3 separate regions of the Homo sapiens genome follow, and regions 2 and 3 are each reported to be linked to region 1. Evidence: microRNA targets listed by miRTarBase, many of them from high-throughput screens and not tested one by one. Region 1 holds a microRNA gene; each other region holds the end of a gene's coding sequence.
What was found. Region 1 holds the annotated microRNA hsa-miR-3689d (GGGAGGUGUGAUCUCACACUCG, at 2,287-2,308, shown strand). A microRNA usually pairs through its seed, bases 2 to 8, with sites in the 3' UTR of a target mRNA and lowers its output. Matches are read on the target gene's strand: a 7mer-m8 pairs with bases 2 to 8, a 7mer-A1 pairs with bases 2 to 7 and ends in A, and an 8mer does both.

Region 2: miRTarBase lists BRIP1 as a target of hsa-miR-3689d. Seed matches in the 3' UTR shown: 8mer at 599-606.
Region 3: miRTarBase lists GINM1 as a target of hsa-miR-3689d. The part of its 3' UTR that is shown has no 7-base or 8-base seed match.

Annotation. Positions count from the first base shown.
Region 1 is chr9:134,849,473-134,852,639 of GRCh38, reverse strand. It overlaps MIR3689D2 (microRNA 3689d-2), which reads left to right and starts at 2,284; the gene lies at 2,284-2,363. MIR3689A (microRNA 3689a) reads left to right here and starts at 3,076; the gene lies at 3,076-3,153. MIR3689D1 (microRNA 3689d-1) reads left to right here and starts at 2,958; the gene lies at 2,958-3,031. MIR3689B (microRNA 3689b) reads left to right here and starts at 2,368; the gene lies at 2,368-2,515. It also overlaps MIR3689E, MIR3689F and LOC101448202.
Region 2 is chr17:61,680,491-61,683,661 of GRCh38, reverse strand. BRIP1 (BRCA1 interacting DNA helicase 1) reads left to right here. Exons shown (of 20, transcript NM_032043.3): 20 at 1-3,171. The coding sequence ends at 366. Among named protein-coding and RNA genes, the nearest start is that of NACA2, 91 kb to the right of the region's middle.
Region 3 is chr6:149,590,604-149,593,774 of GRCh38, forward strand. It overlaps GINM1 (glycosylated integral membrane protein 1), which reads left to right. Exons shown (of 8, transcript NM_138785.5): 8 at 124-1,145. The coding sequence ends at 235. It also overlaps the pseudogene RPS18P9. Among named protein-coding and RNA genes, the nearest start is that of GINM1, 26 kb to the left of the region's middle.

The sequences.
Region 1 (3,167 bases):
TGCTACCTGTGCACACCTCCAGCTTCATCTAAAGCACACACATGCTGCCTGTGCACACCTCCAACTCCATCTAAAGCACACACAATGCTGCCTGTGCACACCTCCAACTCCATCTAAAGCACACACAATGCTACCTGTGCACACCTGCAACTCCATCTAAAGTACACACAATGCTACCTGTGCACACCTCCAACTTCATCTAAAGCACACACAATGCTGCCTGTGCACACCTCCAACTCCATCTAAAGTACACACAATGCTACCTGTGCATACCTGTAACTCCATCTAAAGCACACACAATGCTACCTGTGCACACCTCCAACTTCATCTAAAGCACACACAATGCTACCTGTGCACACCTTCAACTCCATGTAAAGCACACACAATGCTACCTGTGCATACCTCCAACTCCATGTAAAGCACACACAATGCTACCTGTGCACACCTCCAACTCCATGTAAAGCACACACAATGCTACCTGTGCACACCTCCAACTCCATGTAAAGCACACACAATGCTGCCTGTGCACACCTCCAACTCCATCTAAAGCACACACGATGCTACCTGTGCACACCTCCATCTCCTTCTAAAGCACACACAATGCTACCTGTGCACACCTCCAACTCCATCTAAAGCACACACAATGCTGCCTGTGCACACCTCCAACTCCATCTAAAGCACACACAATGCTACCTGTGCACACCTCCAACTCCATTTAAAGCACACACAGTGCTTTGTGCGCACACCTCCAACTCCATCTAAAGCACACACCATGCTACCTGTGCACACCTCCAACTCCATCTAAAGCACACACAATGCTTTGTGCACACCTCCAACTCCATTTAAAGCACACACAGTGCTTTGTGCGCACACCTCCAACTCCATCTAAAGCACACACAATGCTACCTGTGCACACCTCCATCTCCATCTAAAGTACACACAATGCTACCTGTGCACACCTCCATCTAAAGCACACATAATGCTACCTGTGCACACCTGTAACTCCATCTAAAGCACACACAATGCTACCTGTGTACACCTCCAGCTCCATCTAAAGCACACACGATGCTACCTGTGCTCACCTCCAACTCCATCTAAAGCACACACAATGCTACCTGTGCACACCTCCAACTCCATCCAAAGCACACACAATGCTACCTGTGCACACCTGTAACTCTAAAGCATGCAGAACGTTGCATGTGCACACCTCTAACTTTATTCAGTGTGGTTTCCTTCCCTCTTCAGGACGTTTAAGTAGTTGACTTCATTCAGCTGCAGGCCCAGCCCGCTGTGGGCTCTGACGGAAGGCCCTTTCCTGCAGAAGTGCGGGTGTGTGGGGACGGGTGGGGCTACTGTCTCCATGCCGCTGAAGTGAAGTGAGCTCCAAGTGTAGCCGAGCAGAGAACCCTATGGGGTGGGGTGTGGGACCTCACACACTGCAGGTTCTACCACCACCTCCCCGCGGGTGGCTTGGCTTAGAAGGCCTAGAGGTGGACCTAGAATGCGTACTTTTAGGGGGCTCCCCGGATGACTTCAACAGGCAGCCAGGTGGGGGCCACTGATGGGCAGACACCAAGAAACACCAGGAACACTTCTGCTAAGCGCTGGCCTTGTCCCATTAAGAACCTGTGGCTCCCCTGGGAGGTGTGATCCCGTGCTCCCTGGGAGGTGTGATCCCGTGCTCCCTGGGAGGTGTATCCTGTGCTCCCTGGGAGGTATGATCCTGTGCTCCCTGGGAGGTGTATCCTGTGCTTCCTGGGAGGTGTGATATCGTGGTTCCTGGGAGGTGTGATCCTGTGCTTCCTGGAAGGTGTGATCCTGTGCTTCCTGGGAGGTGTGATATCGTGCTTCCTGGGACGTGTGATGCTGTGCTTCCTGGGAGGTGTGATCCCACACTCGCTGGGAGGTGTGATCCCGTGCTCCCTGGGAGGTCTGATCCCGTGCTTTCCTGGGAGGTGTGATCCCGTGCTCCCTGGGAGGTCTGATCCCATGCCTCCTGGGAGGTGTGATATCATGGTTCCTGGGAGGTATGATATCGTGGTTCCTGGGAGGTGTGATCCCGTGCTCCCTGGGAGGTCTGATCCCGTGCTTCCTGGGAGGTATGATATCATGGTTCCTGGGAGGTATGATATCGTGGTTCCTGGGAGGTGTGATCCCGTGCTTCCTGGGAGGTGTGATCCTGTGCTTCCTGGGAGGTGTGATCCCATGCTTCCTGGGAGGTGTGATCCTGTGCTTCCTGGGAGGTGTGATACCATGCTTCCTGGGAGGTGTGATCCCACGCTCACTGGGAGGTGTGATCTCACACTCGCTGGGAGGTGTGCTATCGTCTTCCCTGGGAGGTGTGATCCTGTTCTTCCTGAGCGGTGTGATCCTGTGCTCCCTGGGGGGTCTGATCCTGTGCTTCCTGGGAGGTGTGATATCATGGTTCCTGGGAGGTGTGATCCCGTGCTTCCTGGGAGGTGTGATATTGTGGTTCCTGGGAGGTGTGATCCCGTGCTCCCTGGGAGGTGTGATCCCGTGCTCCCTGGGAGGTGTGATCCCGTGCTCCCTGGGAGGTGTGATCCCGTGCTCCCTGGGAGGTGTGATCCCGTGCTCCCTGTGAGGTCTGATCCTGTGCTTCCTGGGAGGTGTGATATCGTGGTTCCTGGGAGGTGTGATATCGTGGTTCCTGGGAGGTGTGATCCCGTGCTTCCTGGGAGGTGTGATCCTGTGCTTCCTGGAAGGTGTGATATCGTGGTTCCTGGGAGGTGTGATATCGTGGTTCCTGGGAGGTGTGATATCGTGGTTCCTGGGAGGTGTGATATCGTGGTTCCTGGGAGGTGTGATCTGGTGCTCCCTGGGAGGTGTGATCCCATGCTTCCTGGGAGGTGTGATCCCGTGCTTCCTGGGAGGTGTGATCCTGTGCTTCCTGGGAGGTGTGATACCATGCTTCCTGGGAGGTGTGATCCCACGCTCACTGGGAGGTGTGATCTCACACTCGCTGGGAGGTGTGCTATCGTCTTCCCCGGGAGGTGTGATCCTGTTCTTCCTGAGAGGTGTGATCCTGTGCTCCCTGGGGGGTCTGATCCTGTGCTCCCTGGGAGGTGTGATATCATGGTTCCTGGGAGGTGTGATCCTGTGCTTCCTGGGAGGTGTGATATCGTGGTTCCTGGGAGGTGTGATCCCGT
Region 2 (3,171 bases), not on the chromosome of region 1:
TCTATCTATTTTACACCTGAACTTTATGATCCTGAAGATACAGATGAAGAAAAAAATGACCTAGCTGAAACTGATAGAGGAAATAGATTGGCTAACAATTCAGATTGCATTTTAGCTAAAGACCTTTTTGAAATTAGAACTATAAAAGAAGTAGATTCAGCCAGAGAAGTGAAAGCTGAGGATTGCATAGATACAAAGTTGAATGGAATTCTGCATATTGAAGAAAGTAAAATTGATGACATTGATGGTAATGTAAAAACAACTTGGATAAATGAACTGGAACTGGGAAAAACTCATGAAATAGAAATAAAGAACTTTAAACCATCTCCTTCCAAAAATAAAGGCATGTTTCCTGGTTTTAAGTAATAATACTTAACTCTCAAGCTAAGTAAAAATATGTCATCATGCTTATGTTAAACTCTGTTGTAAGTAATAATTTGTAAATTGAATAAGTGGCATACTTTTTAAAAAACTATTTTATGTTCAGAAATGTAAATGTTATTATTCTTGAGTTTTTGGGTTTTTTTTTTTGAGACAGAGTCTTGGTCTGTTGCCCAGGCTGGAATGCAGTGGTGTGCTCTGGGCTCACTGCAACCTTCACCTCCAGGTTCAAGTGATTCTCCTGCCTCAGCCTTCTGAGTAGCTGGGACTACAGGTGTGCACCACCATGCCCAGCTAGTTTTTGTATTTTTAGTAGAGATGGGGTTTCACCATGTTGGCCAGGCTGGTCTCGAACTCCTGGCCTCGTGATCTGCCCTTCTCTGCCTCCCTAAGTTGCTGGGATTACAGGTGTGAGCCACAGTGCCTGGCCCATTCTTGAGTTTTGATAAAGTAATTCATACAAAGTACTGTCCTCAAATAAGTCTTCCTTAGCTAAATGCAATTTAAAATTATTCAAAGATCCTAGGGCACTTCTAGTTTCACGTAAATATTCATATTAGGTGGTTCTCTTCATCCATTTGTTTTCACACTGATACATAAAAATTAACAGCAGTCTAATCTAGTGACACCTCAGTCATATTTCGCTATAGATTTTACCTCAAATCAGTCCAAGACTTTTTCAGAGATCACCATTTGTCTTGAAAGGTTTATTTCGTTATTAAACTGCCTACTTATAAGTAATTAAGAGAAATTAAGAAAGTAGTATGCATTTTTAATTGAAATTGTTTTACATTCTTTGTATAATAAACCTAAAACCAAACATGTCATAAACAAATTGACGTAAAGATATAAAATGCCAAATGAAGTATTCCAAATTTTCTATTCTAATTATTTAGCTTCACCATCATTGTGGAAAAAAATACTAGATCCTGCTTAGTATTATATATTTTTCCTAGTGGATCAGTGAGTAATAAGTACCAAACACTAGACTAGAAGGTAATTTCTACATTGTTTAGAAAGGGTGAAACAATTTATCCCCTCTGGTATTGTTCTAGCATAAGCTTTAGTTATACAATGATTAAGATAGAAAACTTCATATATAAATTTGATAAGCAAACCCACATTTATAGCTGCAGCTAAAATATGTTTCCTTAGGGCACAGTAATCCTTTCTGTGAATTTTGACCTTGTTTGTGTTTTTGTGAATGAAGCTATATGTCTAATCAAAAATGATTATAAAAGAGGCTCATCTCTGACATCATTCCAAAAATACATTCATTGATCTCTTTTTAAGAAACATCTGTTATTCACTGGGCATTGGGACTTTTTGTGAGTAATTTGAATTGAAATTTTATGAGCTATCCAAGAATTCTGTATGGTCTATTATTTTCAAGTCAAAATTTCCAGTAAGGATTTACTTTACATTTCATTTGGATAAATGAATCATTATATAGGTATGTCTTTGCTTCCATTTTGAGACATTTAGATTTTTACAGCCTGTTTCTATAGCATTTGATGTTACAACTCTAAGCGTAGTTCAAAGACATTTAAATTGACAAGTTACCAGTTAAAGAATTTAGAATATATTAGATCCCATCTAGTATTATATATTTTTTCTAGTTGATCATTGAGCAGTAAATACCAAATACTCGATTAGAAGGTAATTTTTACATTGTTTTGAAAGGGTGAAACAATTTATCTCCTCTGGTATTATTCTTAAACCACAGATAGGGATAGTAGGGTAGTGAAACGAATAAATACCTGGTAGAAGACAAGAGACTTGGGCTCTACACCTGGCTCTGCCACTGATTTGCTAAGTCATATTGGCAATCACCACACCCTTCAGGGAATTAGTTTCATCTGTAAAATGCAGCGGTTAGTACTATAAAATCATACAAATTTCTTTGTGCTTTGAGAATCTATAAAGGAATGTCTGTTGATATTCTGAGTCGATTTTCATTTGCTTTTGTTCCAGAACGGTTAAAATAAAGCATATTATTTCATTTAAAAAGTAAAGTGGCTCTTACTCATTTACATTTAGGGAACGATGGTGACGTGGTTTGGCTATGTCCCCAGCCAGATCTCATCTTGAATTGTAGTTCCCATAATCCCGACGTGTTGTGGGAAGGACCCAGTGGGAGGTAATTGAATCGTGGGGGCGGTTACCCTCATGCGGTTCTCGTGATACTGAGTTCTTATGAGACCTGATGATTTTATAAGGAGCTTTTCCCTGCTTCACTCTCATTCTTCTCTCCTGCTGCCCTGTGAAAAGTTGCCTTCCGCCATGATTGTAAGTTTCTTGAGGCCTCCTCAGTCATGCAGAACTGTGAGTCAATTAAACCTCTTTCCTTTATAAATTACCCAGTCTTGGGTATGACTTTATTAGCAGCATGAGAACAGACTGACACAGATGGTATATGTGCATAATAACTTGGAAAGCTAGATATTTATTTTCGCAATGCTACAATTAAAACATTTTGAGGACTTTTAAAATTACCTTTAGGGCCAGGCGCGGTGGCTCACGCCTGTAATCCCAGCACTTTGGGAGGCCGAGGCGGGCGGATCACGAGGTCAGGAGATCGAGACCATCCTGGTTAACACGGTGAAACCCCGTCTCTACTAAAAATACAAAAAATTAGCCAGGCGTGGTGGCGGGCGCCTGTAGTCCCAGCTACTCAGGAGGCTGAGGCAGGAGAATGGCGTGAACCCGGGAGGTGGAGCTTGCAGTGAGCCGAGATTGCGCCACTGCACTCCAGCCTGGGCGACAGAGCGGGACTCCGTCTCAAAAAAA
Region 3 (3,171 bases), not on the chromosome of region 1:
AATGTAGCAAAAGCACCTAACCTTAGGTGTATATTATAACCTTGAAGTAGCCTTTTCTCACTATCAAACTACAGGCAGAGGAAACATTTAATTTTGATAGTAATTAATCACTTTCTATTTCAGAGGAATTCTTCAGTTGGATAAAGTGGACGTCATACCTGTGACAGCTATCAACTTATATCCAGATGGTCCAGAGAAAAGAGCTGAAAACCTTGAAGATAAAACATGTATTTAAAACGCCATCTCATATCATGGACTCCGAAGTAGCCTGTTGCCTCCAAATTTGCCACTTGAATATAATTTTCTTTAAATCGTTAAGAATCAGTTTATACACTAGAGAAATTGCTAAACTCTAAGACTGCCTGAAAATTGACCTTTACAGTGCCAAGTTAAAGTTTACCTTATTCTCGGCCGGGTGCAGTGGCTCATGCCTGTAATCCCAGGACTTTGGGAGGCCAATGCGGGCGGATCACGAGGTCAGATCAAGACCATCCTGCCAACATGGTGAAACCCTGTCTCTACTAAAAAAAATAAAAAAATTAGCTGGGTGTGGCGGTGCACGCCTGTAGTCCCAGCTACTTGGGAGGCTGAGGCAGGAGAATTGCTTGAACCCGGGAGGCGGAGGCTGCAGTGAGCCAAGATCACGCCACTGCACTCCAGCCTGGGTGACAGAGCGAGACTCTGTTTCAAAAAAAAAAAAGTTGACCTTATTCTCTAAAAGGGCTGGCTATTCATATGATGAATTGTTAAGGAAAACTTAAAGTGGAAGAGAACACATGTGAAGAGACTTTGAAATTATCAAAAGAAAAAAAAAAGACCAGACAAAATCTCATGTGCCAATAACTTTTCAAGGTGCCTTTGTTAAGGAAATTATATCCACTTAATTACTATAATATATAAGACTTTATGAAAAGCACTTTATAAAATTCTAATTTAAAAGGTCAAGAACTTAACACTTATTTTTTTATTCAGTACAGTGTGCCTTTATATTAAGTATGTGACTCAGTATAAAATCACTGAAGTGTATCATGATTTGATTGTATCCTGTACCAAGACTACTTACCTTGAATGCTCCAAGATTTAAAAGTAGTATGACATGTTCTCACTCTAAAATAAACTTTTTTTTTTTTTTTTTGAGGAAAAAAGTATAGCTGTTTTGGTTACACTGATATAAAACCTTTGCCCAGGTAAGAATGGCTGAGATGCAGGAGTAGGTATACTTTCATTTACACTGGCTGAAACCATGGCTCAAATTGAATGAGTCCATTGATGTCATGAATTAGACTGTGCCCTTGGTCTTGTGGTTCTAGATATAGTGCTGTTTACCCTAAAAGTGTTTTATTACCTTTTTTAACCATCACTCATATTGACATATTAATATTTTACAATGTGAACGAGTACATATAACTCATCTCTATGTGATACTTTTTTGAGATGGAGTCTGGCTCTGTCGCCTAGGCTGGAGTGCAGTGGCGCAATCTCGGCTCACTGCAAGCTCCGTCTCCCGAGTTCATGCCATTCTCCTGCCTCAGCCTCCCGAGTAGCTGGGACTACAGGCGCCCGCTACTATGCCCGGCTAATTTTTTGTATTTTTAGTAGAGATGGGGTTTCACCATGTTAGCCAGGATGGTCTCGATCTCCTGACCTTGTGATCTGCCTGCCTTGGCCTCCCAAAGTGCTGGGATTACAGGCATGAGCCACCGCGCCTGGCCCTCTATGTGATACTTTCTGTTGTTTCATTAAAAAATATTTTTACTGGCCGGGCACAGTGGCTCATGCCTGTAATCCCAGCACTTTGGGAGGCCGAGGTGGGCAGATCACGAGGTCAGGAGATCGAGACCATCCTGGCCAACACGGTGAAACCTCGTCTCTACTAAAAAAAAAAAAAATACAAAAAATTAGCCGGGCGTGGTGGGGGGCACCTGTAGGCCCAGCTACTCGGGAGGCTGAGGCAGGAGAATTGGTGTGAACCCGGGAGACAGAGCTTGCAGTGAGCCGAGATCACACCACTGCACTCCAGCCTGGGCGACAGAGCAAGGCTCTGTCTCAAAAAAAAAAAAAAAAATATATATATATATATATACTGCAACCCATCATTTTGAAAACACTATCCAAGAAAGTAATGGTTGTTTTTTGTTTGTTTGTTTTTTTGAGATGGAGTTTCACTCGTGTTGCCTAGGCTGGAGTACAATGGTGTGATCTTAGCTCACTGCAACCTCCACCTCCCAAGTTCAAGCAATTCTGCCTCAGCCTCCTGAGTAGCTGGGATTACAGACTCCCACCACCATGCCCGGCTAATTTTTGTATTTTTAGTAGAGATGGGGTTTCACTGTGTTGGGCAGGCTGGTCTCAAACTCCTGACCTCAGGTAATCCACCCACCTAGACCTCCCAAAATGCTGGAATTACAGGCGTGAGCCACCATGCCCGGCCATGGTTGGTTTTTTTGAGACCACTTTATATTTAGGCCAAATAGGTATGTGTGTGATGGGGGTGGAGAGGATGACAAGTAGAATGAAGGAGTGATGTTTCACTTTGCCAGACTTTAAATTAATTACATTGCATGGAGCTCTATTATGCAATACTCTCTCCATACTGCTGAAAAAAATAATCTGCAACTTACAATTTGATCCTTGAGTTACCAACCAGTAACACTTGTTCTTTACACCCTTTCTCATTCCCTAAGTCATTAGAAAGCACCAGTTCTAACTCCAAATGATGACATGGTCTTATTTTATCTATTAACCATAAGCTTACAGATTCTAGTGAAGAAAAAACTTTAGGAGGCTACATGGTCTATTGGAGAGTGTAGGCTCTGCAGTCAGAAGATCCCTACCCAGGCTTCTGTCTTTCTCAGTAAGACTTGGGACCACAGCAAGGTCCGCAATCTCCTGAGGCTCTGTTTTCTATGGTTGGGATAACATGGTAAGTTATTTTCTTCTAAGTAGTCACACATGGAAATCTTATCTAAAATTTTATACCATTAACTTTTATTTCACTTATTAACTCATACCATTAATACTTTACTTTAGCTATGTTTGGTATGCATGAGTTAATGAGTGATTAGAGTACTATGAGCAGCACAGGTTTAGAAATGCCTATTTGCCTATAGTGCAGCCTCTTACATAGGCAAAATAAAAGTCAAGTAAGAATTTTATTTTATTTTTTTAAAA